4 linked regions of the Homo sapiens genome follow. The protein of the gene in region 2 purifies or fractionates together with the protein of the main gene of each other region. This does not show direct contact. Each region holds a gene or a part of one and is shown on either strand. Other genes may lie near its edges. The genes, in order: PPP2R5E, PPP2CA, CCT7 and PPFIA1.

Region 1 (7,521 bases), on a different chromosome or scaffold from region 2:
GAGAAGCAGCTGAGCCAGAATACAAAAATAAAAATATTGATGTGCAAATAAAACATCAGTGATCATGTCTGGTGCCACCTTTTTGTTACAGGTGACTGTCACTTTATGATAACATTGGTAATAGCATCAAAAGAGAATCTCTTCATTTCCTGGGCCAGGTCAGTGCATCCAATTAAAAGGAAAAAAGGAAAACAAGGAAAAAAAACCACCCCAAACCCCAAAAAACTCTAAACACTTAAAAATGCCAATAACATCCATACATCCCTTTCCCATCCCACCCTCATCCCCACAAAAAAATAAAAAAGCTTTTAAAGCTCTAAATATACTTTTTTTGTTTCTTTCCATAGTGTGATTGAGCCTAGGGCTATACATTTAAGTATAGCAGGTGCAATTACAAGCAAGTCCTGGCTCTGCACCCTGGACTATCCCACGCATAGGAGGTACAAAATAAATTAAACCCTTTCATTTAGGCAAACAAGCCCAAGATGAAGGAGCATAACCCTGCTTGTGAGTATCCAGTGGCATCGAGGGTATTATTTATTTCTTTTTTTTTCTTTTCTTTTATAAAAAACAGTCAAATGTTAGGGAGAGCAAAATATAATAAAATTTAAAAGGACAAAAACTCAACACTGAAGGAAAACAACTGGGGATACTTCACAATGAGAAACAGGAATGCATGCTTGATTCAAAGTATGAGATGGGTGAATTCACTCACATAGTTGTTCTAGGCCCACAGCCTAAGGCCTCAGCGTCATTCTAAACCACAGGGTTGTGTGTATTTTTCTCTTCCAAAGACACTCTTAATCCTATCCCTGAAACCAATATGGTAAGGATAAGGTTGGAGTGATCATCACTCACTAACTACAATATTTGCTATTTAAAAAATATATTTATATATAGTTCTGGAAATTATGAAGCAAACAAAATATAACACAAAGATGCATTTGTCACAATTAACTCAAGTTGCAGCAACAGCAGAATTGTGGGAAGGGACAGAGAGAGAGGGCTGCTGCAAATGCAGCAAGTACGTCCTGAAATATGTCACATAGTGCAACAGTCAGATTACCTCAGTTACTCTGCGTCACCGCACACAACATGACTAATGTCACATTGTCACTTTCCATTAAAAAAGAAAAAGACGGTGTTTCTTCTCAGAAGTTGCCCTACGAATTTTAGACATATAGCTTTAATTGATTCTATAAATATGTCTAAAATGTGGCTTTATTCTTCTCAGTTTGGAATGATCAACATACAAAATTGACATCAAGGAGGAGAGCTGTAAGTGTTCACCTTTACTCTTGAAGACAGGGTAAGGTACAAAAAAGGATCCTGGCCTTTCTCATTTCAAATGACTGCATTTCATTCCAATGAGCAGAGATTCTTCATAAACCTGTGATTTTAATGTCTTCTACCTAAAAAGATGAATTAATGGCAAACAAAAGTTTACACTATATAAACTAAATATAATGCAGAGTTGAAACTAAAGGGCTAAAATGACAAGGGCTAAAAAGGAGAAGATTTGTTACAAATTTATTTTTTATCACATTGTTCCAGCATTTTTAAAGTCAGTTGTTTCGTCTTTGGCAGCCTCTGCCAACTTTACAGTGAATCCCCATCAATGTTCTTTAAAAAAAAAAAAAAAAAAACTATTAATTCCATTAAACCATGTTGCGTCTGGTGTTGCATATGACTTTTTTTTTTTACTGCTTTTTTTTTTCTTTTTGGAATTAACAATGCCAGTTTTGTTTGTTTTTTTACAAAGTTACCGAGATGACAATATCCATAATTAGCTGACTCTTACGTACACACTGTGACCTGATCATCCTGAAAAACTTTATGGGGGAGAAAGGTCAGCAGCTTCTCTTTCTTTTTCTTGAAAATAATAAAACTGCGTATTCTACTTTATATTTAAATGTAAGGAAGAAAATATACAAGCCCATATTTATATTGTATTTCTATTAAGAGCAACAATAGTTCATATGTTCATGTTTGCTACTATCACAATTCAACATATGAACACAGATCAGCTCTATACCATGAATACTGCTGGAAGTGATGGTTTAGGATTACCAACTCACTGCTGCCATGACCAAAACAAGCAAATGCATCCTGGAAATAAACCTCCAAACACATATCTTTCAGTACGTAATAATGCAACTGCATTAGGTAAGTACATACTGTACACAAATTTTATCAGCAGTTTACCTACCCAAGATGTAAGATTCTTCATTTAAATACAAAGCAGAGAGCCAATAAGATATATATATATATATATATATATATATATATATAAAATACAGCCCTAGATTTTGTTTTTTTTGTTTTTTTTTCTTAAACAATTTGGTCACGATGCACCTTTGATATAAAAGCATTTTTAAACTTTATTATTAATACTCAGGACATTAGGAATTTCCAGATTTTTTTCAGTAGCATTTGTAGAACCACTTTTGGTAACAAATACAGTAGTTAGGAATATGCATCCAATTCAGAATGCATAATAATGTTTATCCTGAATCCTTTCCGGCTAAAAACAGGGCTGGCGCTGTGATGAGATATAGAACGAGAATCTACAAAAAACACTGTAACATGTTTGTTTTTTCCCAGAGGCTACATCCTCTTTTGCTGGAATACTTTATAAATACATATTAAAAAGTAAGGCAACAACTCCAAACAGTCCAAGCTGTTTGCTCAACTCTTTTCCCAATTAGATTTGCAATCCCGGTGATCAATTTCATGGTTGTATTGTTTAGTGTTTGTCTTTCTTATTTCAAATGGTCCAAAAGGATGTTTTTCTCACATTTCTAAAACATCTCTGGTATGTGTGTTCAATGATATATGCAACTAATACTGGTCAGGTACTGAAGCCTGTGATGTCCCAGTGCCTGTTTTCAAAGGATTCAAGACATTGATTTGGATTCACCATAAACTGATGCATGAATCCGATATTCCCTTCCCTACTATGTTTATCACCTCTTCTCTCTTAACTCCTAATTTTAAAACTAAAGGAGTACCAGGACTACCTGGTTACTGGAAAGATGTTCACCCCAGTAAACAAAACTTTTATCAGGGACTTTTATAATTCATGACCCCATTCCACGTGGACATTCAACTCAGGAAGATGTGCAAAAGAAAAAGATGTTAAATTACAGTCAAGTTATCCAGAGGAGGATGTTACACAAACTTATAAGGAAATGACAGTCTTTTTTTCTTCCTTTACTATAAATACATTTAACAGCTTAGCAGAAAGACAAGCTAAATTTAAGATTGTTCACATTTGAAAATTGTATCATACTCTCTGCTAGTGATAAATAAGGAACTCCCGATAATGGAATTTTAACATAGCAATTTCATCAACAGATCTTTGAAGACCGATTTTTTTTTTTAAAAGAGGGTGAGAACAATGATTATGTTTGCAAAGTTCTGAGAAGTCCATCTACTGTCCAAACTTTGGATTGAAGTCCTTATTTTGTTTTTTCCTTTACTTAGAGACAGGTATATACAGTGCTGCTGTAATAATGAAACAAAGGTGAAATCTACTGTAAAGTTGCACAATACAGAAAACTGTTGCTCCATCTTCTACTACATAAACGTGTGACTCCACAGGTTAGTAATGTTGTTGTCATTGTTTTTGTTAAGTTGGAATTATTCCATCACGTCTAAGACCTCTCTTTAACTCCAGATCCTCCAATTTTTTCCACAATTCTTCACGCTCCTTTTCTTTCTTTTTCTCACTGAGGAAGAAACAGAATACAATGTAAACAGCTGAGGTTTAATGAGATTATGCAACAATGAATATTTTACAATTTCACCTTAACACTCCTTTATACTTAGCTTAATTGAGAAAATTAACTTTAAAATTACTAAGAAACAAAAATGGGAATGACTTATATGCATCAGTTATTGTAAAATCAAGGGCATATTAGTGATTTTCACTTGCAGCTTAGTAAGAATCTTAATTTTTCTTTATCTCCAAATAGTTTCTCAAAAAGGATGCTGGAGATGACACTGATACAGAGAATATAGTAGGTCAAGAAAATATATCTGCTCCTTTATTCCTATTTTTCCCACCTCATGCATATTTAAATTCTTCAGTAGTTTAGAAGAAACTGAAAACTTGTGATTTCACTTTTAATGATCTGAAAAGAACTTGGTTGATATTATTAAGTATTAAATTTTAATGCATCAAGCCTTCAAATTGGGTTCAATATCAATTTCACTGATTTTAAATTTAGTGATTTTCAGACTTTGAGATTTCACTATTTGGTAAAACTTCCCCCAAAAATTAGATGTCCAAATTAGAATCGACAAACTTTATATTTTGCCAAGGACATTTTAAAATTACATTTTTACAAAAAAAGGATTTTTAACATCAACCAAGTAGGAAGTACATGATGCAGGAATATAAGACTATATTGTAAGTTATATAAATTCACATTTACTAAAAATAATTCACTACACTGTCTCTGGTTTTTTTCCATGTTGCAGCGAACCAATAAAAAGCAGACCCAGGCTGGGCGCAGTGGCTCACGCCTGTAATCCTAGCACTTTGGGAGGCCGAGGCGGGTGGATCATCAGTGAGACCCCGTCTCTACTAAAAATACAAAAATTAGCCGGGCATGGTGGCGTATGCCTAGAGTCCCAGCTACTTGGGAGGCTGAGTCAGGAGAATCGCTTGAACCCGGGGGGCGGAGATTGTGGTGGACGGAGATTGCAGCGAGCCGAGATCACACCACTGCACTCCAGTCTGGGGGACAGAGCAAGACTCCGTCTCCAAAAAAAAATAAAAAAAAAAAAATGCTGATCCAGATTAACATTCATAAATCCAGGAATTCAGATAATTCCTGAAAATGGGGGCTCCACCATCTCAGGCATGGGGATGTAATCCATGCACTACCCCACTTAGCAAGGATTAAAACTTCAGCCACAGTACAATTTCTACGCAGGGAAATCCACATGGGTTGAGTGAAATTTGTATGTAATTCCAATGCCTCATTTTTTTTAAAACATTATAACCAATGTTTTTTAAAAGTTATATTAATATCTAGAGCAATAGAGATTAATCTTCATCCCCTCCAACTCCCAAAAAACTCAAGAAAAACCTAAGTAATTTTATATTCTTATTCCACTAGAGACTTGAGGAAATGTTGAATTATAATGCCATAATAGTCTGGTATTAACCAGAAATGTTTAAGACCATATGGGAGCACAAACCAGTGGAACTCTTTACAATAAATGTTTATGGCTTAGTAAAGCCATATGGTAATTAATATCATGATCTAATAGGTAATATTTTCATAACTTAGGCCTTGTTTACCATAATTAGTTTCAGCTATCTCAAATACAAATCTGCACAATATAAATTTCAGTAAGCAGACTAGTTTTCATAAAATTACCTATTTGTTAATTTTGACCCTGAAAAAATTGCACTTATAGGACAATAAGGGCAAGATTAGATAATCCTCCAATCTTCTTCTGGCTTTTTTGTTTTTGCTTTTGTTCTTTTCTTAGAGTCAGGGTCTCATTCTGTTGCTCAGGCTAAAGTGCAGTGGCACAATCATAGCTCACTGTAGCCTCAATCACCTGGGCTCAAGCAATCCTCTTGCCTCAGCCTCCTGAGTGGCTGGGACTACAGGTGTGCACCACCACTCCTGGTGCATTCCAGATTCTAAACATAATCAAGCTGTTTGACAAATTATCACTTTTTGTTTCTCAGTACAGTCTGGGAATAATTATGAGGTCTAAATCAATGTTAGCAAAAAACACAATTTGGGTATATATAAATCAATTGTATAGATCCTGCTGACTTTCGATGAATATGACCTTTTTATTTGGAGAGATAAGGGGATGGTAAGCAAGGGCTTGGAATTTTACTCAACTAAAAAACATTTCAATGTATTTCAGGTTCACATTGCCCTAATTTGCAGTTTTAACCCATTTATGCCAGAGGTTGTAAAACTTTCTTGTGAAAAATCAGACCTTGACGATGACCTTGAGCAGTGGGATAGAAATAACTCCCACAAGCTTAGCGTTCCAATAATGGAACACTAGGCATAAATTGGTTAATTAAGTGTTGACATCATTAAAACATTCATCATCTTGTTACTAAAGTGTTTCATGTTTTTGATCAAATATGGCACTCAATGCAATTTATCCTGTTGGGCTTTTCCTCCAACTGAGCATTATGCTCAGTTATCACACGGCTTTCATACTGACAACTCTATCTTTAAAAATCCTAAATATTGCTGACACAGTTATTGTCACCCCCAATCTTTCCCACTTTTCTCTCTCCCTGTAGGTGGAAATTTTAACGCTTAACCACACTGTCATGCAGGGGATATTGTCAAATTCTCTTCTAATTTCAATTTTACATAGCACTAATGTTGGCATATGTATCTAACAGTGTTAAGTACTTATTCCACCCACCATTTTCAGATTTGTAATACTTCAAAATTTGATCTGAACTGAAACCATTAACTTCTTGCCATCCTGAAGTAAAATTGTCCATTCAGTTATTCTCTGACAGTACCAACTAAATTTCTTCATTCCCTTGTCCTATTCCCACACCTATGGAGAAACCAATGTTTCCATCTGTCAGTACACCCTTCTATTGCTCATTTGACAAATTATTATTCTTGCTTTTAAAAACCCATTTTCTTTTTTTTTTTTTTCGAGACGGAGTCTCGCTCTGTCGCCCAGGCTGGAGTGCAGTGGTGTAATCTCGGCTCACTGCAAGCTCTGCCTCCTGGGTTCACGCCATTCTCCTGCCTCACCCTCCCGAGTAGCTGGGACTACAGGCACCCGCCACCACGCCCTGCTAATTTTTTGTAGTTTTAGTAGAGACGGGGTTTCACCATGTTAGCCAGGATGGTCTCGATCTCCTAACCTCGTGATCCGCCCGCCTCGGCCTCCCAAAGAGCTGGGATTCCTCTTGTTGCCCAGGCTGGAGTACAATGATGCAATCTCTGCTCATGGCAACCTCCCCTTCCCGGGTTCAAGTGATTCTCCTGCCTCAGCCTCCTGAGTAGCTGGGATTACAGGCATGTGCCTCCACGCCCGGCTAATTTTGTATTTTTTAGTAGAGATGGAGTTTCTCCATGTTGGTCAGGCTGGTCGCAAATTCCCAACCTCAGGTGATCCGCCTGCCTTGGCCTCCCAAAGTGCTGCGATTACAGGCGTGAGCCACTACGCCTGGCCCCCATTTTCTCATTAAGAAAGTACACTCATTATAAATAACTGTAATATGCCAGAATATCATAATCAACCTCAACCAGGAATAGATAAAATAATAGTTTTATCTATTCCTGGTCCCCTTAGTTAATTCTCATCTTTTTCAAGGGTTTAGTCTATTTAGTTTAGATAATAACCAGAAAATAGTTTTATTATTGAAGTTCACTAAATACAAACCAAATAATTTGAGTGGAAATAAGTTGTTCTTCAATATTCTCTCTCTTTTTTTTTTTTTTTTTTTTTTTTTTGAGACAGAGTCTCACTCCAATGTCCAAGCTGGAGTACAGTGGCATG
Region 2 (7,521 bases):
AAAATTCAAGAAACTTTCTATAGAAAAAAATGCAGTTACAATTTTGTTGAAAAAACAGCACACATCCTCATATCATAGTGAACCAAAACCACAGCTCTACAGAATTTTTAAATGCCCATGGGGTGTTTGCCCACCTCATCTCAACTAAAATCAAACTCCCTCTACCACCAACTTTATACCAAACATAAATCAATGGGCTATTAAAACCCCATAAATTACTTTACGGTTCAGTAATTTTTCACAAATTTATAGTTATGCAACAATCACCACAATCCAGTTTTAGAACCTTTCCATTATCCCAAAAAGATCCCTCCTGCAGTCACTCTCCACTCCCACTCCAGCTCCTGGCAACCACTGATTTACTGTCTTGAGTTTGTCTTTTCTAGAAATGTCATATAAATGGAATACAAAATGTAGTCTTTTGGCTAAATATCACTTAGAATATTTTTGAGGCTCACCCATGTTCTGGCATAGATCAGTGGTTTGTTCCTTTTCATAGTTGCACAGTCCTTCACTGTATGGCTATACCATTTTTTGTTTCTCTATTCACAGTTAAGATGAACTGGCAATTATGTTACTGAGGTTTTTGGCTACTATGAATAATGTTGCTATAATCATATACATGGAAGTTTTTCTGTGGACATATGCTTTCATTTCTTTTAGGAAGATTCCTAAGAATATAATTGTTGGATCACCTGGTAACGTTTAACTTTTTGAGAAACAGTCAAACTGTTTTTCAAAGTAGCTAGACCATGTTATATTCCCACCAGCAATGCATGAAGAGTTTAATCTCCGGTATTAACCAACACTTGGTATTATCAACCTTACTGATTACAGCCATTCTAATAGATGTGAAGTAGTAACTCAGTTACTTTAATTTGCATTTCCCTGATTACAATTGATATCAAGCATCTTTTCATGTGCTCACTGACCACTCATGTATCATCTTCTTGGGTAAAATATCTATTCAAATATTTTGCCCATTTTACAATTATCTGTCTTGTTATTGAGCTGTAAAAGTTTTTTTTTTTTAAATATCTGAATACAAGTACTTTTTTTCTGGTGTCATCTTTTGAAAAAACATAATCTTAATTTTGATAAAGTCCGATTTTTCAATTTTTTATGGACTGTGCTTTTGTTATATCTAAGAATCTTTAACTAACCTGACAAAGATTTTCTGATTTATTCTAGAAGTTTTGTAGCTTTAGCTCTTACATTTAGTTCTATGATACATTCTGATCCATTTGCTTCAGCACCATTTACTGAAAGAAACATCCTTTCCCCCGGTATTCTTTTGCTAAGGCTGCCACAACAAAGCATCAGAGAATAGGTGGCTTAAACAACAGAAATTTACTTCCTCACTGTTCCAGAGGCAGAAGTCCAAGATCAAGGTGTCAGCACAGTTGGTTTCTTCTGATGGCCTCTCTCCTTGATTTATGGATGCTCATCTTCTCCATCTGTCTTATCTTCTCCCCATCTGTGTCCTAATCTCTAATAAGGATACCACTTACACTGGATTAGGGTCCAACCATGTGACCCCACTTTACCTTAATTACCTGTCCAAATACAGTCACATTCTGAGGTGCTGTGGGTTAGGACTTAGACAAATGAATTTTGGGGGCTACAATTCAGCCCATTAACCTCCATGAGTAAGTTTTTTTCCCCCCAGATAGGATCTCACTCTGTCGCCCAGGCTCAAATGCAGTGGAGTAGCTCACCGCAGCCTGAAATTCCTAGGCTCAAGCAATCCTCCCACCTCAGCCTCCAGAGTGGCTAGGACTACAGCACATGTCACCATGTCTGGCTAAAATTGTTTTCTGAAGAGATGGGGTCTCACTAGGTTGCCCAGGCTGCTTGCATACTCTTAAAGGTAGCACATTCATTCCTCTGAGCACTGGGATTCATCCTGGGTTTTTAGCACAGGTTAGCTCTTTTCATAGTATTTGGAGTCACCGCAGAAACCTTCCACCATCTAGTCCAACTCCTTCATTTTACAGATGCAGAAAATAACGATCTCCAAAAATATTTCGTAGGACTTTACACAATTCAGATATTAATCAAGAAAATTCAGCTCACGCTAAAACCACATCTCACTGCTTCTCTAATATTAGGAAAGTCTGTGACAGCCATTTATCATTTTGAATATTCTTTAATAATAAAAATCAGTCTGTTGCCTAGGGGGGAAAAAATCTCCCCAAGATTTTTGGGTAAAGGTAAAGTCAAACAATTTATTTAAAGGGAAAGGCGGAAGCCTGCCACCCTAACAGCTCTTTACCATCTTTTGCTTCATGTTCAGATCATCATCAGTACACTTTGCAAAGCTACAATTGGCATGTAATGCATGTAATTTTGGAACTTGCTTTTTTCGGTTATCATTTCTACCATTCTAGATTTTTGTTTTTTAAAGACACAGGGGTCTTGCTCTGTCACACGGCTGGAGTGCAGTGGTGCATCATGGCTCACTGTAGCCTTGACCTCCCAGGTTCAAGTGATCCTCCCACCTCAGCTTCCTGAGTAGCTGAGACTACAAGCATGCACCACTGCACCTGGCTATTTTTTTTAACTTTTTGTAGAGATGGGGTTTATGTTGACTACGCTGTTCTTAAACTCCTGGACTCAAGTGATCCTTCCCGCCTTCCCCAGCCTCCCAAAGTGTTGAGATAACAGGCGTGAACCACTGCACCCAGCCTAGTCTAGATTATTACTGTCATGGTTAATGGCTGGAAACTATTCAACTGAGCTAAACCATATGTACATACATAATGTATGTAATGTACATAATATTCTCTGTTAAATATTTACAGCAAATGTTTTCTTGAATTTCTCAGAAAAATTCTTTTTTTTCTTGAACTTCTTCCTCGATATTTTTTTTTTTTTTTGAGACAGGGTCTCATTGTTCCCCAAGTTAGAGTGTAGGGTGGCAAGATCAAGTCTCATTGCAGCCACGACCTCCTGGGCTCAGGCAACTCTGCCCACCTCAGCCTGAGTAGCTGGGACTACAGGCCTGTGCCACCACACTCGGTTAATTATTATTATTTTTTTGTAGACAAGGTCTCACTATGTTGCCCAGGCTGGTCACAAACTCTTGGACTCAAGCAATATGCTCACTTTGTCCTGTCCTCCCAAAGTGCTGGGATTATAGCCACGAGCCACCGTGACCAGCTGATTTAAAACATTTTGACATTTGGTATGTTTATATATTTATAATACTTCAAAAGTATCTAAAAACACAAATCTAATTATATTACCTCTCCATACCCCAATTTACTGAACTAAAATATCTATTTGACCAGCCCTCTAACATTTTTCTTTTCCTTTTTTTTTTTTTGAGACAGTCTCGCTCTGTTGTCCAGGCTGGCGTGTAGTGGCGCAATCTCAGCTCACTGCAACCTCCGCCTCCCAGGTTCAAGCAATTCTCCTGCCTCAGGCTCCAGAGTAGCTGGGATTACAGGCACCCGCCACCACCCCCGGCTAGTTTTTTGTACTTTTAGTAGAGATGGGGCTTCACCATGTTCTCCAGGCTGGTCTCGAACTCCTGACCTCAGGTGATCTGCCTACCTCAGCGTCCCAAAGTGCTGGGATTACAGGCATAAGCCATCACGCCCAGCCTATTTTTTCAAACAATCTGACTGAGGCATTCATTCTCCTCCTTTTGTTTTGATTCTGTACCATCCCCTTACTCAGAACGCAGACGCCTATGATTTTTAAGTCCAAAACCTGAACATATGCATTCCTAAATGTGGAATTTTGTTTTAACATTCAGATAGAGAAAATAACTGGGGGAAAAAAAACTTTCAAGAGGACTGTCTTACCCATTTCAACATGCCCCAACATAAAATTGAAATTACCTTAAGAGCTACAAGCAGTGTAACTGTTTCAACTGAATAATATCCTCTGTCAACATAATCTCCCATAAACAAGTAATTTGTATCTGGTGATTTGCCACCAATTCTAAACAGTTCCATGAGATCATGAAATTGCCCATGCACATCTCCACAGACAGTAACTGGACATCGAACCTCTTGCACGTTGGATTCTTTTGTCAGGATTTCTTTAGCCTACAGATGGGAGACAAAAATAAGGCAATACATTTGGCATTAAACAATATTAACAAAGATTTGTTTACTTACACTTAATGTAGCTTAAGGGGCAGACTCAGTCTAAGATAAAATTGCAGGCATTTATGAACCCATTAAAATAAGTGAGATATGATTATAATCCATTAGCTATCTCACCCTGTTACCTAGGGAAAAAATATGCATTCCTATCATCAATACCAGGAGTTTTTTAAAAACCTATCAAATAGCCATCTAATTAAATACTAATTGTTAGCTGTCACATAAAACCAATGAAAATCGAACAGGACATTCAGGTATCTACTTCCTTACCTTCAGAGTTCTAACTACAATGCAGCACTCAAAGATTCTTTTTTTTTCTTTTTTTGAGACAGGGTCTCATTTTGTCACCCAGGCTGGAGTGCAGTAGTATGATCATAGCTCACTGTAGCCTGGATCTTCTTGGCTCAGGAATCTTCCCACCTCAGTAGTGGGGACCACAGGCACACGCCACCATGGCTGGCTAATTTTCACAAACTTTTTTGTAGAGACGGGGTCTCACGTGATCCTCCACCCTCATCCTCCCAAGGGCTGGGATTACATGCATAAGCCACCTCACCTCAGCCCTGTTTGACTTTTTAAAAACATGTTTTTGGCCAAGCACTGTGGCTCATACCTGTGAGAAAATCATTTGCTCAACCATCTGTACCAGCCCCATGCTAGCAACTGGACATATAGTGGTGAACAAGATGGCTCATTCCCACTACCGTAGAGGGGAGAAGGACCACAAACAAGTAACCAAGCCAAAAGTACACTGTGTTAAGTGTCACAAAGGAAAGGGAGAGGGAAACTGGGAGAGACCACTTTACATAAGATACCAAAACAAATTACCAGAGAATTGTTGCTAATGAGCCATGACAACCACAGATGACAAGGACTGGGTTCAAAGCATTGGTATGCAATCTTAGCTGCACATTAAAAATCCCAATGCCCAGCCAGGCGCGGTGGCTCGCACCTGTAATCCCAGCACTTTGGGAGGCCAAGGCGGGCCGATCACTTGAGGTCAGGAGTTTGAGGCCAGCCTGGCCATCATGGCGAAACCCCATCTCCACTAAAAATAAAAAAAACTAGCTAGGCATGGTGGTGCATGACTGTAGTACCAGCTACTTGGGAGGCTGAGGCAGGAGAATTGCTTAAACTTGGGAGGTGGAGGTTGCCGTGAGCCAAGATCGCATCACTGCACTCCAGCCTGGGTGACAGACCAAGACTCTGTCTCAAAACAAAAACAAAAACACCAATGCCCATTCCTTCCCCTAATAAAGTCAGAATTTTGGAGACTGGAATCAAGCCATCAATAATTTTTAAGCACCCCCACCCCTCCTTTTCCCAGTGTGCAACCAAGTTTAAGAACCACTGCACTTTGGGACGCTAAGGCGGGTGGATGGCTTGACCCCAGGAGTTCCAGACCAGCCTGGAGTACAGTGGCATGATCTCGGCTCACTATAACCTCCACCTCCCAGGTTCAAACGATCCTCCTGCCTCAGTCTCCATGAACAATTGCGACCACAGGTGTGCACCACTATGCCTATTTTGCACTTTTTGTAGAGGTGAGGTTTCACCATGTTGTCCAGGCTGGCCTCAAACTCCTGAGCTTAAATGATTTGCCCACCTCTGCCTCCCAAAGTGCTGAATTACAGGCGTTAGCCACTATACTGGCCTGAGATACCTATTAAGAAATATGTACAACCCATTATTATCAAATCCTACTTCATTCTGAAATTTTTCTCTGCAGGGTAATTCCAACTTCCCATTTACTATCACTAAAAAACACAAATTCACTAGGCTTATTCCATTACCAAGTCTGTCTGGCATTAATACCACATCTAGTGTTTTTTTAACACCTATCATATATTAATGAAAATAACTAAATGAAATAAGTCCTACACTGAGAAGAAACTTGCAAAAGTTATTCAGAAGTTTTAAAAGGGCATGACATAAGCAAACAGATGGTTATATACCATGTAAATCTTGCCATGATGTAATTTTCACATTTAAAGCTATCAGAAGTTAAATGTTAATATACTTCTGTGAATATCTGTTTATCTGCAAAGCTATTCTCTGTATTAATAATAAAAAGTTGACTTTCAGGACTGCCTGAAGTTCCTTACTACAACTGACTCAAATTTTCTATTCAAATCATGAAGGAAAATTAAGTCTAAATGCTATTTGTTGCTTTTATTTCAATTTAGGCAAATCACACCGATAAACAGTGTTATCTATTTTTTAAACTATACAAATTAGTAATACATTCTTGTAAAAAATTTCGGCACAGATAAAATGAAATGTTCCCTTTGAGCACCCTACACAATCCCACCCCCTTTGGGCAAAGTTACCAATAAAATTTTGATGTACAGATGCTCCTCAATTTGTAACACAGCTGCATCCAGATAATCCTATCGTAAATATAATCGAGTCAACAGTGTGTTTTCAGCTTACAATGTTTTCAAGTTATGATATATTTATCTGGATGTAGTCCCATCATAAACTGAGGGGTATATTGAATAGCTATCATTTTCACACCATCATTAAGTCGAAAAATTGGGGAGTGTCTGTATATCCTTTAAAACTTTGTTTACAAAGTTTACACACATACTGTATGTCTACAGAAACAATAGTTTTCCTTTGCATTTTTAAACTAGAAACAATATTGTTCAGCAGCCTGCTTTTCTAACAATATATAATAATACATAACATTTATTGAGACAGCTGGTTATTTTCTCATAGTGGAGGCAGAGTATTCCCCTGACCAATTACAATGGCAGAGGGGTGTGAAACTACAGCAATATATATCCTCGTATTTTCTCCTCTGTATACATATGCAGGCACATTTCCTGAGAGAAGATACTATGAAGTGAACTTAACTAGTGTATCTAGTAGTTTGGTTTTTAAATGTTGACATTATCAAATTGTCCTTTAAAATAAAAAGAACAGTTAACTCTTAAGTGAAATTTCTAACTTGTCAATCTAGAAAAGCCAACCAGAGCTCTTTCTTCCCTTCCTACCAAACTTCACAGACCAGAACAAATATAATTAAATACTGGCGATAACAGTGGTATACAGTAGAAGCAACCATCCCTCAGACCGGAGGGGGAAAAAAAAAAAATCATCCAATCAACTATTAAGTAGATCTTAACAAAAATGCAACCTTGGAAAGAACCAGTTTTAAGCATGATTTTGGTTGTTTTGTTGTTGTTGTTTTGGTCTCAACTTACCAGCTCTCAGATAGTTACAACAATAAAACAGACTACACCAGAACAGTAGAACAATAAAAGCTACAGATGTTCATATAAAAGATCATTTTGGGCTGGGTGCAGTGGCTCACGCCTGTAATCCCAAATCCCAATACTTTGCGAGGCTGAGGCGAGTGGATCACTTGAGGTCAGGAGCTCCAGACCAGCCTGGCCAA
Region 3 (8,466 bases), on a different chromosome or scaffold from region 2:
AAGTCTTCTCTGGTCCACCCCTGCCACGGATGGAGTCTTACACTTTAAATCAAAAACTAACATGAGTCTCAATCACTTCCTATCACCTTCAACAGGTTCTTTCACCTCAACAGGTTAACTTACCCAATGCTTGTGTATACTTTTTCTCACCTCAACCTGCAAAGTGTACCCCCATCTAAAATAGTCACTCTGCCATCTTCTACCAAAACCACTTTCTCACCACCAGGCCACCAATTCCTCAGAGCTCCAATTCTTCCAAGAAGTTTTCTCTACAGTAATAAACAAGGGCATCTGAATAGGGGAATCCCATAACTTTCTCTTCACTTGCCCTTGCTCGCAACTTTTTATCACCATCCAGCTTAAGTACAAGCTTTCCAAAGACAAGGACCAAAATAACCTTAATTTGAAGAGTGCCAAGATTTGGCCACACATGAAGCAATATTCAGCAGCTTTTGGGGCTGAAAATCCAACTGCTACTTGTAAGTGCTTGACAGCACTGGCTTCTTGACTTTTGGGGAGAAAAGCACTGGCACTACAGTAACACTACATTTACTGAGAGTTCTTAAGCACAATGCAAGAAGAGCTTGGAAGCAGCTAACCACAGATTCCCCAGGTTCCCTATGCTTTGCAGGCCCTGAAGAAACAGCAGGCTGGGTAGAGAGCATCTATGGGGTGGAAAAGGTGGCAGAGCTGGATTGAGTCAAGCCAAGACAAGCAGGATAGGTCCTCTTCTAACAGTTCCCCAGCAGCAGGCACTGTATGCAAAGTCCAGTTTCCATCCCTTAGTTACTTTCAACCTCGCTCCTTTTTTTTATTCCTCTAATAAATAAGAAACAAGGTCGGGTGCGGTGGCTCACGCCTGTAATCCCAGCACTTTGGGAGTCCAAGGTGGGTGAATCACAAGGTCAGGTGTTCGAGACCAGCCTGGTCAACACGGTGAAACCCCGTCTCTACTAAAAATACAAAAATTAGCCAGGCGTGGTGGCGTATGCCTGTAATCCCAGCTACTTGGGAGGCTGAGGCAGGAGAATTGCTTGAACCTGGGAATGGAGGTTGCAGTGAGCCAAGATGGTGCCACTGCACTCCAGCCTGGGCAACAGAGCAAGACTCCATCTCGGGAAAAAAAAAAAAGAAAAAGAAACAAGAGCAGACTCCAGTAATTGGCCACAGGTATAATGGAAGGTTTTGGAATTTCAGCTTACTGATCTTCCTCTTCATCCTACTTTAAAACTTTCACTAAGCATCATTAAGCTTAATGGCTTACAAAACAAGTGTGTCTATGCCAAGGCACACAGCGCTCAACGCCACAAAGGCAAGGACATACATTTTATGCAAGCTGTACCAACATCACAGGACTGAGGTTTCAGGGGACCTTTTCACCTCTCTTTCGATTACAGAAGTATTCTAGAATATCAGGGGCCAATTTGAAGACAGGAAGACTCTTGGAGATAGAAGTTTCACATTCCAAAAATGGGGAGGAGATATCAAGAGCCAATACAGCAGGGAAACGTCAATCTGACAGAGGAGGGGTCAGTTCAGGGAAAATCCAAGTGTGATGATCTAGAGCCCACTGGTGAAGTTTTATCACGGCAGAGAATGGCGGTTCTGATCCCTAGCTGTGTGAATGTGAACCAAAGCTCTTACGGAAGCCCTGGCAGCGGGATGGACTGATTTCAGAGATGAAAGGAAGCAAACAACCACCTCGCCGAGTAAGAGCTAACATTGCTGAGTGCTTACTATCTGCTAGGCACACTGACAAACTGAGAACCAGAAATTAAATAACATGCTCAAAGTCACACAGCTAGTAAGTGGCAGAGCTAAGTTACAAACCTAGGCATTCAGTGTAGCTCCAGAGGCCTTACTCTCAACTGCTGTACTATGCTGCCTCTGCACAGAAGATGAAGACGACTTCAAGAATGAGCAATGCTAGAGACATAAAGGGGAGAGGAAGTACTGTTAAATGCTAATTTCCTTCTACCTTGGGTACAAGCGGGATTCATAGGGCATTTGGTAGAACACCTAAAAGGTGTCTGCGTCCCTAACAGGACAGAGAAAAGCTGCAGGAAGCAGGAAAAGAGCAGAAGATAGAGTCGGACAGGCCAAAATGAATAAGTGAACTGCCAAGTGCACAGAAAGCAGTATCTCAGTCAGGGTCAAACACCACCTCGGAAGCTGGCCCTACTCAATAACAACCCAGGAGATACCATCGAGGCTTGGGACCCACGGAAAGTATCTAAAGCTCCGAGAGACAGAGAAAAGAAGTGTGGGAAGTAGGGCTACAAGGAGCACTTTAGGTGGCTCCAGGACTCACAGCAACTCCCTCGCCCCAAATTTCAAGAAAACGAGACCCAGAGTTAGGTAGCCAACTAGAAAAGCCTTTCTTATGTCACCAGAGTCCGAGCCTGGGTCTTCCCACCTCCGATACAGTGTCTCCATCTACCTTTCCCGTTCTCCTGGCTGAGAGGCTGCAACCCCCAGCAACCACCAGGGCCTGGTACATTCAGTAGGCACTAAAGACGCGTTTATTTAATGACTGAGCGAATGAGTGAATGAATTAAAAGTACTAGGGAAGGCGTCTGCTTCTCTGCACGCTGCGGTGAGGGTCAGCGAGTGAACATAGTGAGTCCCTAGGCGGGCACAATATGAGGTCCCCAATGTGCCTGTGCCGGTTCCAAGAAGCACACGTCTTTACAGCCCGCAAATCTCAGAGCAGCCCCAGCTTCCAAGTCTAGCTGCCGACCGCGTAACCACGGCCGACCTGCACTCGTTTCACGCAAGTCCCGATCATGCGGGGCTAAAAAAGAGGTCCCCGACGTGGGTTCGCGGGCCCGAAGCACCCTGGGACTTGTAGTCCCCAACCGGCCAGCCCAGAGACTCCTCTAAAGCCCCACGCAGCCCTCGCCAACGGCTCCAGCGCCGTGCTCGGGCCGAGCCAGGCCGCGGCTGGCTGGGGTCGCCCCTAAGCTGGGGATCTGGGCGAGGACAGAGGCGGCAAGCAAAAGAGGGTCCTACAGAGCAAGCCCAGGCCGAGCGGCGCCGGCCACCGGCCAGATGGCAGCTGATGGCGACGGATGCGCGAGACGCCACTCACCATCATTTTGGAAGCTTATTCAGCGGCCCGCCACTCTCCCCTCTTCTCCGAGACCGGGCCGCCCAGCAACCCACAATGCCTCGCGCAATAGAAATACCCAGAAGCTTGGGCCGGGAGAGGAAGAGAACGGACCACTTCCGCTACTCTATGGTTCGTTACCACCGACTCGGTGCGGCTAGAAGGACCTGAGGCTGGGCTTCGGGGACTCTCTAGTGAGGGGCGTTCATTAAAGAGGGGTCGCCGCATTTCGGTCGTGCTTCTTAGAGCACGGAGGGTCTTTGCTCGGCCCGCATCACCTACTAACTTAATTCCACCCTCCTCCATCCCCGGACGCCAGACCAAGGAATGCAATAAAGGCAAAAGTGTGGGACGCAAAGTGTGGGATAGGCTGGTGCCAAAGCACTTTACGTGAGCGATCTCATTTAATCCTCACAACCCTATTGCGTTGGTCCTATTAAGGCCATTTTACTGATGACAGAAAGGAGGCTGAGAGGTCAAGGTGTCCAGTGTCACAGTTACATAGTCAGTGTCAACGGGACGAGCGTGGGAAGCTGCCCCCAATGCCCGTTTTCTGGCTTTGCACTGGCCAGAGGCTCCTCGTGGATGGCGTGCGCCAGGCCGCGGCCCCAGCGCCTATCCACGGTGAGCGCGCAAGCGTTGGTGGCACTGGGCGGAAGACCCCCTGGCGCAAGACGAGTGCCTTCCCGTGAAGGCGTGGGGAGGAGGGAAGCGCAGCTGGGAGGAGGGAAGCGCAGCTGGGAGAAGGCTAATCGTCGTCAATCGAGGCGGCCTTGGAGTGGACAGGACCGAGACCGCAAGGGTTAACGGCCTCGACTATCGACAGCTGAAGCAAGTCCGGCTACGGGCACACCTCCAGTGCTTGTCCTCCCTGGCCCGCCCACCGCCAGCGAGGACCCGGAGAGTATGCTGGGGCGGGGCTGAGGCGAAGGCCGGTTGTAGCTGTTAAGAGTTTAAGCCAATCAGCCCCCGGCTCCACTTCTCTCGACCAATAGGAAGTAGGCTAAGGCGCAGAGGCGGAAAGTGTGGCTACATGAGCAGGCGTCAGAGCCAATCAGCCTTGAGCCTCGTTCCCGTCGTCCAGCCCGCGGCGAGAGCGGGTATGTGGGCGGGAGGCCGGAGCAGCTGTCAGGCTGAAGTCCTGCGAGCGACGCGCGGCGGGGCGGCGAGAGGAAACGCGGCGCCGGGCCGGGCCCGGCCCTGGAGATGGTCCCCGGCGCCGCGGGCTGGTGTTGTCTCGTGCTCTGGCTCCCCGCGTGCGTCGCGGCCCACGGTGAGCGGCAACGGGTGGGACTGCGTTGCAGGGCGGGGCTGGCCGTCCAGCTTGCGCGCGTCTCGGGTTGGGGGCCAAGGGTCACCTTGGGGACCCTGCGAGTTCAGAGCAGGACAGGTCTGGGAGCGGGCGGCCGGAATAAGTGGGTGGTGGTCCAAGGACATAAAGTGGGCGCAGCCTGAGGCTGAAGCTCTGACTCCTCACCTTCCCACGACAAAGCAGATCTCCCCACTCGCCCCTCCCCGCCCACTAGCGCCGACCCAGGTGACTTAGGGTGCGACCAGAAGGGACAGCTAAGGAAGGATACTACAGGCTGGAGATATGTATGTGAGCATTCACATGTACACAGGAGCACACATTCCTACACGTGGGCACACACGCACAAACCGTTTACACCTACACAAGCACATAAATGTATACATCTATGCACATAAGTGAGCACATACGTATACCCACAACTTACACAAATAAGCACACACAAAGGCAAGCAAGGGTTGGGGAGGAGGGAGTGAGTTTGACGCTAGTCCAGGAAGGCTTTCTGGGGGTGTATTTGTATCCGAGAGGGAGTCCCCACTCCCAGGACTGTATAGCCCAGTGCCAAGCCATGGGAGCTCTAACTGATGGCTGTGATTTGGGCAGTAAACAAAGACAGCTAAAGCCTTAATGCCATCCTTGGTACACAGTAGTGACTTGGTAGTTTGTTGATAGACTAACAGACTTGTGACAGCAGTTTTCTTTTTTTCTTTTTTTTTTTTTTGAGACGGAGTCTTGCTCTGTCGCCCAGGTTGCAGTGCAGTGGCCCGATCTCGGCTCACTGCAAGCTCCGCCTCCCGGGTTCACGCCATTCTCCTGCCTCAGCCTCCCAAGTAGCTGGGACTACAGGCGCCCACCACCACGCCCGGCTAATTTTTTTGTATTTTTAGTAGAGACGGGGGTTTCACCGTGTTAGCCAGGATGGTCTCGATCTCCTGACCTCGTGATCTGCCCGCCTCGGCCTCCCAAAGTGCTGGGATTACAGGCGTGAGCCACCGCGCCCGCCCATGACAGCAGTTTTTATCTTTCAACATTCCGCAGTCTCTCTGGGTTAAGGAAACCAGGGACTCAAGTCCAGGTACAACATTAAACTTTGGTGCTGAGGAGAAGATCCCATGCCCCAGAAAAATCTAGTGGTCTGGAAATTCTCTTCATCGGTGCTGTGGAGCTAGATATAGTTGTTCACCCATTCAGGAAAGTTTATAGGGCTATCCCTATATTGTAGCCACTGTGCAAGACACTGGTGACTCTTCACTGAATGAAGTTACAAAGTGGAAGAGGCAGATATTTAAAAATTATGAATCCAGGGCAGGTGCGGTGGCTCACGCCTGTAATCCCAGGACTTTGGTAAGCCAAGGTGGGAGGATCACAAGCCCTGGCAACAAGGCGAGACCCCATTCCTATTTAAAAAATGAAAAAAAAAAATCAGCCTGGTCAACATGGCGAAACCCTCTCTACTAAAAAATACAAAAAAAAATTAGCCAGGCATGGTGGCGCACGCCTGTAGTCCCAGCTATTTGGGAGGCTGAGGCATGAGAATCGCTTGAGCCTGGGAGGTGGAGGTTGCTGTGAGGCGAGATGGCGCCACTGCACTCCAGCCTGGGTGATAAAGTGAGACCCTGTCTCAAAAAAAAGAAAAAGAGGCCGGGCGCGGTGGCTCACGCCTGTAATCCCAGCACTTTGGAAGGCCCAGGCGGGTGGATCACGAGGTCAGGAGATAGAGACCATCCTGGCTAACACGGTGAAACCCCGTCTCTACTAAAAATACAAAAAATTCTCCGGGCGTGGTGGCGGGCGCCTGTAGTCCCAGCTACTCCGGAGGCTGAGGCAGGAGAATGGCGTGAACCCGGGAGGCGGAGCTTGCAGCGAGCCTAGATCGCAACACTGCACTCCAGCCTGGGTGACAGAGCGAGACTCCGTCTCAAAAAAAGAAAAAAAGAAAAGTTATGAAAGCTGTATAATTACAAATTATGTTGAAAGTCCCCATTTATTAAAAAGTACATTTGAATGGGTATGGGAGGGCAATCATGAGGCAGAAGCTTTCTCTGAGGAAGTGACATTTAAGGTGTGACCTGAAGGATGACTAGGAAAGAGTCAGGTAAAGGGGTGGAAGTAGGGTGGCGTGGGAGTAGGGGGCCTTCCAGGCTCAGGGAACAGCCTGCAGAAAGACCCAGAGAAGTGAAGACACTGAAAGGCCAGTGTAGCTTGAACACAGGATGGAGGAGATGAGGTTGGAAGAGTGGCCAGGGGCCACAGCAAACAGGGTCTTGTAGGCCACAGTTTAAAAAGAGTTTAAATTTTAAATGCAAAGGGCAGTTATTGAAACCCTAGGTATGGTGATGTGCTCATAATTGCTAAGATGTTTTCGATTTCTGGTTGTTGCTTGGGGAGCAAGAATGGAGGCAGGGAGGCCAGGTAAGAAGCTGAGCTGTCAGGACAAGAGATGATAGTGACTAGACTTAAGGGGATGGCAGTGGGACCAGAAAGTCAACTTTTAAATTTTAGTGAGAATTGCTTTGTACGCAGGCCACTACATCTCTACCCTGAAACTCCCAGGTCTTCAGAGCAAAAATACTAACCCTGGAGCTCTCAGTTTTCCTGGCTTACTGCGTAAGCAGCAGCAGCAGCTGATATAAGCCTCTGGGGTTAATGACTCTGCATCAACTCTATCCTCCCCAGGACAGAGGCCATCTAGCCCCCAACCCTGCCACTAGTGGACCCCGTTGGCTGAAGCCAGGACCCTGAGCCCAGACTATAGCCAGCCCAGCTGAAGACACAGGGTCTGGGATCTGAACCTGAACCAGCTTGTTCCTGGGAGGCTTCTTACCTGTACTCTTTATCCTTCAGGCTTCCGTATCCATGATTATTTGTACTTTCAAGTGCTGAGTCCTGGGGACATTCGATACATCTTCACAGCCACACCTGCCAAGGACTTTGGTGGTATCTTTGTAAGTTAAGGGAGGCCCCTGATCTCTGATCCTCAACCTCCCCCTTCCCCTCACTGAGCTGCAGTGACCCTCTCATCCCACCTGAGTGCTGGGACAGGGAAGGGAGCAGAATCAGCTCTGCCTTCCATGAGCTGCAGCACAGAAAGGAAGCTCTTCCAGCTACTCCCCTGAGTATAATATAAACCTAGGCACCATGGAGGGACAAGTTGTCTTTTTAGGGGACATGAAGTGAAAAGCCAAGAGCACCAGCTTCCTCTGCCAGCTCTACCTGTGAACTATGTGACTTAAGGCACATCACTTCCTCTCTCTGGATCTACAACCAAGTCCCCTGCCTATCTCATAGAAGGGTAGGGTGGTGTAGGACAACCAGATAGGCCTTTGCGAGAATTAAGTAAAAATGTTTAAGTGTCTGGCGATACAGAAACCACTCCATGTTTCCTTCACACTTTATAAGGTGCCAATAAGATGGGATTGTCAGCCCAGTCCTAAAGCAGGTGTGTCTCATTACACTCTCACCTGTCCAAATGTTAAATGTTTTTCAGCACACAAGGTATGAGCAGATTCACCTTGTCCCCGCTGAACCTCCAGAGGCCTGCGGGGAACTCAGCAACGGTTTCTTCATCCAGGACCAGATTGCTCTGGTGGAGAGGGGGTAAGGAGTGGGCAGGCAGGACACGAGGAGTGGGCAGGCATACGGCAGATTCTGAGATTATTGGTAGTAGTGCTTTGAAAGAGCTGTTTTTGAAAATTTCATCTTTTTAAGCGTCTTTAAGAAATGTCTAGCCTGGGCAACATGGAGAAACCCTGTCTGTACAAAAAATACAAAAATTAGCTGGGCATGGTGGTGCACACCTGTGGTCCCAGCTACTCGAGGCTGAGGTGAGAGGATTGCTTGACCGCATGTTAAGGCTGCAGTGAGCCGAGATCACGTCACTGCACTCCAGCCTGGGCAACAGAGCAAAACCCAGTCTCCAAAAAAAAAGAAAAAGGAAAAAGAAATGTATTTAAATTATCCATGCTTTTAGCTATTTACTTATGAGCCTTTATAACAGATTCTTCATAGTCTGCCTTCTATACTCCCAGGGTGATGGTCTGGGGAAGGG
Region 4 (7,546 bases), on a different chromosome or scaffold from region 2:
TTCCCAGGCTGCTACACTGAGCAGTGCCAGAAACAAATCACTGAGCAACCATGTCACCAGTGTGTGTGACAACCTCCACAGCCTGCGACTAACTGTACAAAACTCCTGTCACTTCCCTGACATGTCTTGTGTGCCCATTCTTTCCAAAACCTACCTTATTAAGTATATTAGTATTTGATATACACTTCAATACGTGTACCTTAAATTACAAATACAATAAAATCCTGGTAAAACATAAATTGGCTACTTCTTTTAAAATTGTAGTAATAAAATTCAACATAAATAAACTTGGTAATTTATAAGATTGAAATAAGAAAAATCTTAATGATTCTTTAATCCAACAAAAAAGGAACATAGAGCGCTAACGTCAAATTATTGTTGCTAAAAAGGAAACCCACGTTTGGCTTATCAATCTTTCAGGAGAACTGACTACAGCCAAGAAACACATTAAGGCTAGTACTTATTCATTTACTAATTTATCACTGCAGACCCATCATGCGAGTATAAATGTGTGCTTATGCGGGTCTACCTGAATGCACCCCAAAGGCACTTATGATGAGTAACGTGGCGCCTAGACAGCTCTGAAACACATAAATAACCCACTTCTCTCCCACTATGCCCCGTGCCACTCACCTTACACTCTTCTAGTTTTTACTTTCTCCCTTTACCTACCATTAAGTAAATCCTCATTCAACTCCATGAGCAAAGTCTTTCAAACACTGGTCCAAATGTAACATACTCAGAGAAACAATTTCAGTTGTTCTAAGCTTTAAAAATCTTTTTTTTTTTTGAGACAGGCTGGAGAGCAGTGGTGCAATCTTGGCTCACTGCAACCTCCACCTCCCGGGTTCAAGTGATTCTCATGCCTCAGCCTCTGAGTAGCTGGGACTACAGATGCGCGCTACCACGCTCTGCTAATTTTTGTATTTTTGGTAGAGACAGGGTTTTGCCATGTTGGCCAGGCTGGTCTCAAACTCCTGACCTCAGGTGATCCGCCTGCCTCAGCCTCCCAGAGTGCTGGGATTACAGGCATGAGCCACCACACCCGGCCTAAGCTTTAAAATTCTCATCTGCCAAGGAAAAAGTTCCTAAGGAATCAATCTCGAGTCTTCTATCCCCTAAAACAAATGTGACTTACAAAACCTAGATGTTCTGATAAAGGTGGGCTATCAAAATAATTTTTTTTTTCCGTGAAATCAATCCTATTTGTCTATTAAATTACATTAGGAAATTAGAAATACATGAGATAATCCATGGGAAGTACAAGTTTAGCCAGAAAAGGCTTAAGACAACAGAATGGAGGCACCAAATAGATTGGTTGCTTCAGAGCCCTTTTTCAAAAACTCTGGAGAACTTCCTGAACCTAGGCAGTTCCCAAAGATAGGAATGAAAATAATGAGGTATTTTCACATGACTTTAGAGTACAACGATTTGTTCTCCCTAAGAAGTTTAATCCCTAGGAACTTTGTATTTGACTTACAAACACCAGAAACTATCATTTCACAAATCGTTACGGAAAATACTCATCTGAAACATTAACAAAAGATGACACTAATAAAAAAACATTTAGTGGAGAAAAATCTATAGTTTCAGGTTAAAAGCACTCATACCTGTGGAAGTGCCGTGTTGAGCTGTCTCTGCAAGGAATCTCTTTCATGACCAACCTCGTGTAACTTCCCCTGGGTTAAGGCCAGCGTTTCTTGAGTCTCTCTCAGTGTATCAAGAAGGCGGTCCCTTTCTTCTAGCATGGAGACCATCAACTGTTCAAAATGTGAATCTGCATCTGGCTGTGAAGGGGAGCCGGAACCATGGCCTCCACCTCCTCCAGGGGGGCCTTCTGCTTCGCTGATGGTCGGCATCACCTCGCACATCATCTTGAAATGAAAGACCCAGGCTACAGTAATTAAGCTCAGAATACAGGTTCCCACAAATATGCAACTTTACAGGTATCTGTAGCTAAAAAGATGGGCAGTCTCATTATGCTCAGATCTGTTATGCTTTGTGTGTAAATAAGCTGGGAAAACATACACAGGGCAAATATTAAGTGCAAAAATACACAACATGAAGACATTAACACAGACAAAAATCCAGGGAAGGGGTCAAGATCCCAAAGGACTACCCTCACAAAAAAGGGCAAGCCCTGGGGTAGTCTGTTTGCAAAGCTGTACTTGTTTTTGCTGAAAACAAGTGTGCTTCTGTTACCTATTTTTTTTACTTCCCAGTGGGGTGGGGAGGGTGGGGGGGTAGGGGGGGAGAAAGTCAAAACACATGTCACCCAATCATTTTTCAGGAAAAGCACAGAAGGAGCATACAACCAGCAAAACTGACAAGTACAAAATCCATCAGGCATCTTGCAGGAATGTGTGCAGTCAGCTCCCGGGAAGAACTGACGGCTCCCTGAATTCTTGGGCTGGATTTGGTGAGCACTAAAAGGAACCGGATTCGTTAAACGCTGGTAGAAGTGTTTTCCAATGGCTGCAACGGTTGGTCAACCTAACTTACGTAAGTTTACAACCGAAAAAAAAAATCCACAATGGAAATATAGCAGGTCGATACAGCCGGGGGCGGCTAGGAAAGAGGGAAAAGTGAAAGGTGAGATTACGAGAGTCTATTAAGTGTCTGGGATATAAAGACAGCGCCAGGGAAAGGGGAAGTCGCTTCTGAGCCTTTCGGGCAGTACTGGGGGCGCGGTGGACCCCTGAGAGGGGGATGCCCCAGACGGCGCACCTGATGGGGATGGTGACCTCCAGCCTGCTCGAGCCGCACTCCTCCCCTCCTGTATCAGGTGCGGCGGAAGCCCCGAACCCCGGGGGGTGAGGACCGTTGACAACGGAGCCCGCTCGGGCCAGGGCTTTCAGCGGCCACAGGTCCCCGCCCCTCGCCCCAGCGCCCGGGTCACGGGGCGCGGGGCTCGGGGAGGGGCAGCGCGCAGTCCCCGGAGCCGTCCCTTGGGGCGCGGGTGTCCCGCCGGAGCTCTCCCAGCGCGACCCGGCGCCGCGGCCTCGCCCCCACCCGTCCCGGAGCGCACCCTTCCCCGCGGAGACATCTAATCGGCTGCGTGGCCGCCGCGGAGACCGGGACGCGCCGGTGACGCCTGGGCCCCGAGCCTGCCTCAGTGTCCCGCTCCCTTACCTTGCTCGCCGGCGGGAGCGGGCGAGGAGGCTCCGCGGCGGCTCGCGGGCGGCTGCTCGCTCCGGGAGAGCTTGGGAGCCGACGAAAGCAGCCCGCGGCCGGCGTCCGCCTGCCCGCCCCACGCCGCGGCCCCGGGGCCCGCCGCCCCAGTCACTAAGGCCGGCCCGCGGCCGGACACTGGCGGAGCGGAGGAGGAGCGGGCCCGGCTGCGCGGCGCCGGCGTCTACGTGCCCGACGTCGAGCGCGTCGGCGCGAGCGTCAGCACCGCCCCGGGGGCGGGGCCCGAGGAGCACCTTGGCCCGAGTACGCAAGCGCTGTCTCCTCAGGAGGGGGCGGGAGGCGGCCCCGGGGCACTGATTGGCTGAGCGAGACGGGAGCCACGCCCCCCAGGCCCCGCCCGGGTCGCGGGGGAGGGGGCGGTCTCCGGGATGAGCCACAGGTGGGCGCTCAGGTGCTCGCCGGGTCAGCGTCTTCCTCCGGGCGTCCCCAGTTTCCCCCCACGGCTGCAGGGACGCCGGAGGCCTTTGCTGAGTGTCTACCGCGCCTCGAGTTCTGAGCTGGACGCGTCCGGCACGTCAGGTCCCTCCCGAGCTGGAGGCTCTGGATTCGCACCTTGCAGAAGAGCGAACCGAGGCTTCAGTCACCACCGAGGACCCAGACCCCGCCCGCCGCGGCGCCCCTACGGTCTCCCTGGGCCTGATCTGGGTTCAGAAGGACGGAGTTCCCGCCAGGACCCACTTACGGAGCGCTGCCTGCCGCACCTGGGGACGTCCCGGCGCAGCGTCCAGAGTGCAGGCTTTGCCGCTGTGGCTTTCACTCTGCAGCGTGGGCCCGGGCGACTCGGGAAACCCGCCTGGGCTTCAGCGCCTCCGATGTAGGATGGGAAAATGATGCAGACCTACCTGCGAGGCTGCTTTAAGACATGAATCAGATGTGAAGAGCGACTAGTTGAGAGCCTGACGGGCAGCACTGCGCGAGTCTTGGTCATTTCATCTTTTCCGCAAGTTTTTTTTTTTTTCCAGACGTTGTTTCACTCTTGTCACCCAGGCTGGAGTGCAATGGCGCCATCTCGGCTCACTGCAACCTCTGCCTCCCGGGTTCAAGTGATTCTCCTGCCTCAACCTCCCGTGTAGCTGGGATTACAGGCGCACGCCACCAAGTCCAGATAATTTTGTATTTTTAGTAGAGACGGGATTTCTACATGTTGGTCGAGCTGGTCTCGAACTCCTGACCTCAGGTGGTCTGCCCGCCTCAGCCTCCCAAAGTGTTGGGATTACAGGCGTGAGCCACTGCGCCCGGCCTCAGCAAGAATTTTTAAACATCTACTATGGGCCAAGTCTTGTGCTAGATGTTGCAGATACGGAGATGAATAGAGACACCTCTAATTAATTAAAGCGGATGCCCTCCCCACTCCTCCCAGGATTTGACTCGGAGCACAAACTCTTCACAAACCAAAATGTCAGGACACCATCGCCAGTGTCCACTGGCCACTGCTGTTGGTGTGAGGCAGCCAGGAGCCCCTCAGAACTAGTAAGTCTGAGAAGAGGCTGCACGGGGCCTAGGAGAGGGAGAAATGAGCCCGTCCAAGGTGAATTCCTTGATTCTCCATTGTGAGTGCACCAAGAACAAGCACTCCCTCCGACTGACTCTCGCCTACCAGGATCTGGAACACCTTCCATTAATTTATTCGTTCATTCAATAAATATTTATTGACTGACTACACATAGATATGAATATGTACTTTTTGCCCCTAGTTTCTTGCTATTTTAAAAGTGTAAAAATGGCCAGGTGAGGCCGGGTGCGGTGGCTCAAGCCTGTAATCCCAGCACTTTGGGAGACCCAGGTGGGCAGATCACTTGAGGTCAGGAGTTCAAAACCAGCCTGGCCAACATGGTGAAACCCTATCCCTACTAAAAATACAAAAATTAGCCGGGTGTGGTGGCGGGCATCTGTAATCCCAGCTACTCAGGAGGCTGAGGTGGAAGAATAGCTTGAACCTGGGAGGTGGAGGTTGCAATGAGGAGATCATGCCACTGCGCTCCAGGCTGGGAGACAAAGCGAGGCTCTGTCTCAGAAAAAAAAAAAAAAAAAAAACATTGGCCAGGTGCAGTGGCTCACGTCTGTAATCCCAGCACGCTGGGGGGCCAACGTGGGAGGATTGCTTGAGCCTGGGCAATATATCGAGACCCATGTCTATACAAAAAATTAAAAATTAGTCCAGCAAGGTGGGCCACACCTGTAGTCCCAGGTACTTGGGGGATTGAGGTGGGAGGATCGCTTGAGCCTGAGAGGTCGAGGCTGCAGTGAGCTGTGATTGTGCCACTGCATTCCAGCCTGGGTGCCAAAGCGAGACTCTGTCTCAAAAATAATAAAATTGTAAAGTTGATCGCTTAGATGAGGTGTTCTGCAAGTACCCTGTACCTCTCCACACCCCAGCAATTCTGCACAACTCCCAAGTTCCCCTGAACCACTGTCTGAAACCAGCAAATTTCCAGCTCTCCTTAGGGGTACCTGCTTAATGCAGCCAGCTTATGTTTGCACCATGCTCATAAAGTGTCTGTTTTCTAAGAAATCGGCTCAAGGCCGGGCGCAGTGGCTCACGCCTGTAATCCCAGCACTCTGGGAGGCCGAGGTAGGCGGATCACGAGTTCAGGAGATCGAGACCATCCTGGCTAACACAGTGAAACCCTGTCTCTACTAAAAATACAAAAAATTAGCCGGGCGTGGTGGCAGGCGCCTGTAGTCCCAGCTACTCGGGAGGCTGAGGCAGGAGAATGGCGTGAACCCGGGAGACGGAGCTTGCAGCGAGCCGAGATCGCGCCACTGCACTCCAGCCTGGGCAACAAAGCGAGACTCCATCTCAAAAAAAAAAAAAAAAAGAAAAATCGGCTCAAGATCAAAATTTAGTTCGGCAGGGTAGAATGTTCATTCATTTCATGAATATTTGTGCAGCATGTATGAGCCAAGCATGGCTTAGGTCTTGGGAACGCAGAGCTAAGACATCACTTCTAGTATGAGTTCACAGTCTGGAGAAAGAGAAGAAAAACAGACTATTGCAATGTCTGTCCCGTAAACAGTGTGTGACTTGGTGCTGTGGAATCACAGGGAAGGGAGGAACCCGCTCTCCAGCTGGCATCATGGGGGCTTCATAGAGGAGGCAATATCTGAGCTGGGTCTTGAATGATGTGGGATTTTTCCAGCGGAGAAGGGAGACACCCAGTTGGTATAGCTCCAGGAAAATGAGAATTCTGAATTTCATTTTATTTCTTTCTTTTCTTTCTTTTTCCTTCCTTCCTTGCTTCCTTCCTTCCTTCCTTCCTTCCTTCCTCCCTTCCTTCCTTCCTTCCTTCCTTCCTTCCTCTCTCTCTCTCCCTCCCTCCCCTCCCCTTACCCTTCCTTTGTTCTTTTTCTCTCTCTTTTTTTTTTTTTTTTTGAGACAGGGTCTCATGTAGTCACCTAGGCTGGGATATAGTGGTTCGAACACAGTTTACTGCAGCCTCTACCTCCCAGGCCCATCAGTCATCTCACCTCAGCTCCCCAACAAGTAGCTGGGACTACCAGCGCAGACCACCATGCCTGGCTAACTTTTTTGTATTTTTGGTAGAAAAGAGGTTTCACCATGTTGCCCAGGATGGTCTCAAACTCCTGAGCCCAAGCAATCCTCCCACCTCACCCTCCCAAAGTGCTGGAATTACAGGCATGAGCCACCACTCATGGCCCTCATTCATTTTAATTCATTTATTATTTCATTCCCCCAGATCGCAAAATCAGTAAGGGGGAAATCGTAAACAACCTAAATGGCCAAGAAAACAAGATTGGTTAAATTATTGCACTTCCAAATGACAGAAAACTTGGTGACATTCACAGTCATTTTTTTTGAGACTGAATCTTGCCCCGTCGCCCAGGCTGGAGTGCAGTGGGGTGATCTCGGCTCACTGCAGCCTCCGCCTCCTGGGGTTCCAGAGATTCTCCTGCCTCAGCTTCCTGGGTAGCTGGGATTACAGGCACACCTGGCTAATTTTTGTATTTTTAGTAGAGACTGGGTTTCACCATGTTGGACAGGCTGGTTTCGAACTCCTGACCTCAGGTGATCCATCCACCTCAGCCTCCCAAAGTGCTAGGATTACAGGTGTGAGCCACCGCACCTGGCCCACAGTCATATTTTAGATAACTACATATATCATGATTGTGGTGGTAGTTACATTACTATATACGTTTGTCAAATAACTGTACATTAATATGTAGAGTATGCCTTAATTTTTATACATAAACAAAAACTTTTTTAAAAAAGCAAATTCAAACAAGTATACAGAGTGTGAACCCCAATTTGAAAAAGAAAACAGTCTGTGTTTAGATTAAGAATGTATTATGTAAAATTTACCTTGTAGATGAATAACTCTAGAATGTTAAGGTG

What was found.
Region 1: the proteins of PPP2CA (region 2) and PPP2R5E purify together in Homo sapiens (affinity purification with mass spectrometry; 8 studies listed by BioGRID and IntAct, with this or other methods). This does not show direct contact.
Region 3: the proteins of PPP2CA (region 2) and CCT7 purify together in Homo sapiens (affinity purification with mass spectrometry; 5 studies listed by BioGRID and IntAct, with this or other methods). This does not show direct contact.
Region 4: the proteins of PPP2CA (region 2) and PPFIA1 purify together in Homo sapiens (affinity purification with mass spectrometry; 6 studies listed by BioGRID and IntAct, with this or other methods). This does not show direct contact.

What each region holds. Positions count from the first base shown.
Region 1 is NC_000014.9:63,372,378-63,379,898, forward strand, and holds part of PPP2R5E (serine/threonine-protein phosphatase 2A 56 kDa regulatory subunit epsilon isoform), read right to left. Parts: intron 3,732-7,521; coding exon 3,632-3,731; 3' UTR 1-3,631. UniProt on the Homo sapiens protein: The B regulatory subunit might modulate substrate selectivity and catalytic activity, and might also direct the localization of the catalytic enzyme to a particular subcellular compartment.
Region 2 is NC_000005.10:134,202,074-134,209,594, forward strand, and holds part of PPP2CA (serine/threonine-protein phosphatase 2A catalytic subunit alpha isoform), read right to left. Parts: intron 4,059-7,521; coding exon 3,849-4,058; intron 1-3,848. UniProt on the Homo sapiens protein: Catalytic subunit of protein phosphatase 2A (PP2A), a serine/threonine phosphatase involved in the regulation of a wide variety of enzymes, signal transduction pathways, and cellular events.
Region 3 is NC_000002.12:73,229,010-73,237,475, reverse strand, and holds the start of CCT7 (T-complex protein 1 subunit eta), read right to left. Parts: upstream 3,169-8,466; 5' UTR 3,098-3,168; coding exon 3,092-3,097; intron 1,927-3,091; exon of another isoform or gene 1,831-1,926; intron 1-1,830. Other genes in the region: PRADC1 (protease-associated domain-containing protein 1 precursor), read left to right, coding at 4,316-4,382, 7,263-7,363, 7,906-8,015. UniProt on the Homo sapiens protein: Component of the chaperonin-containing T-complex (TRiC), a molecular chaperone complex that assists the folding of actin, tubulin and other proteins upon ATP hydrolysis.
Region 4 is NC_000011.10:70,266,501-70,274,046, reverse strand, and holds the start of PPFIA1 (liprin-alpha-1), read right to left. Parts: upstream 3,358-7,546; 5' UTR 3,133-3,357; intron 2,869-3,132; exon of another isoform or gene 2,728-2,868; intron 1,875-2,727; coding exon 1,611-1,874; intron 1-1,610. UniProt on the Homo sapiens protein: May regulate the disassembly of focal adhesions. May localize receptor-like tyrosine phosphatases type 2A at specific sites on the plasma membrane, possibly regulating their interaction with the extracellular environment and their association with substrates.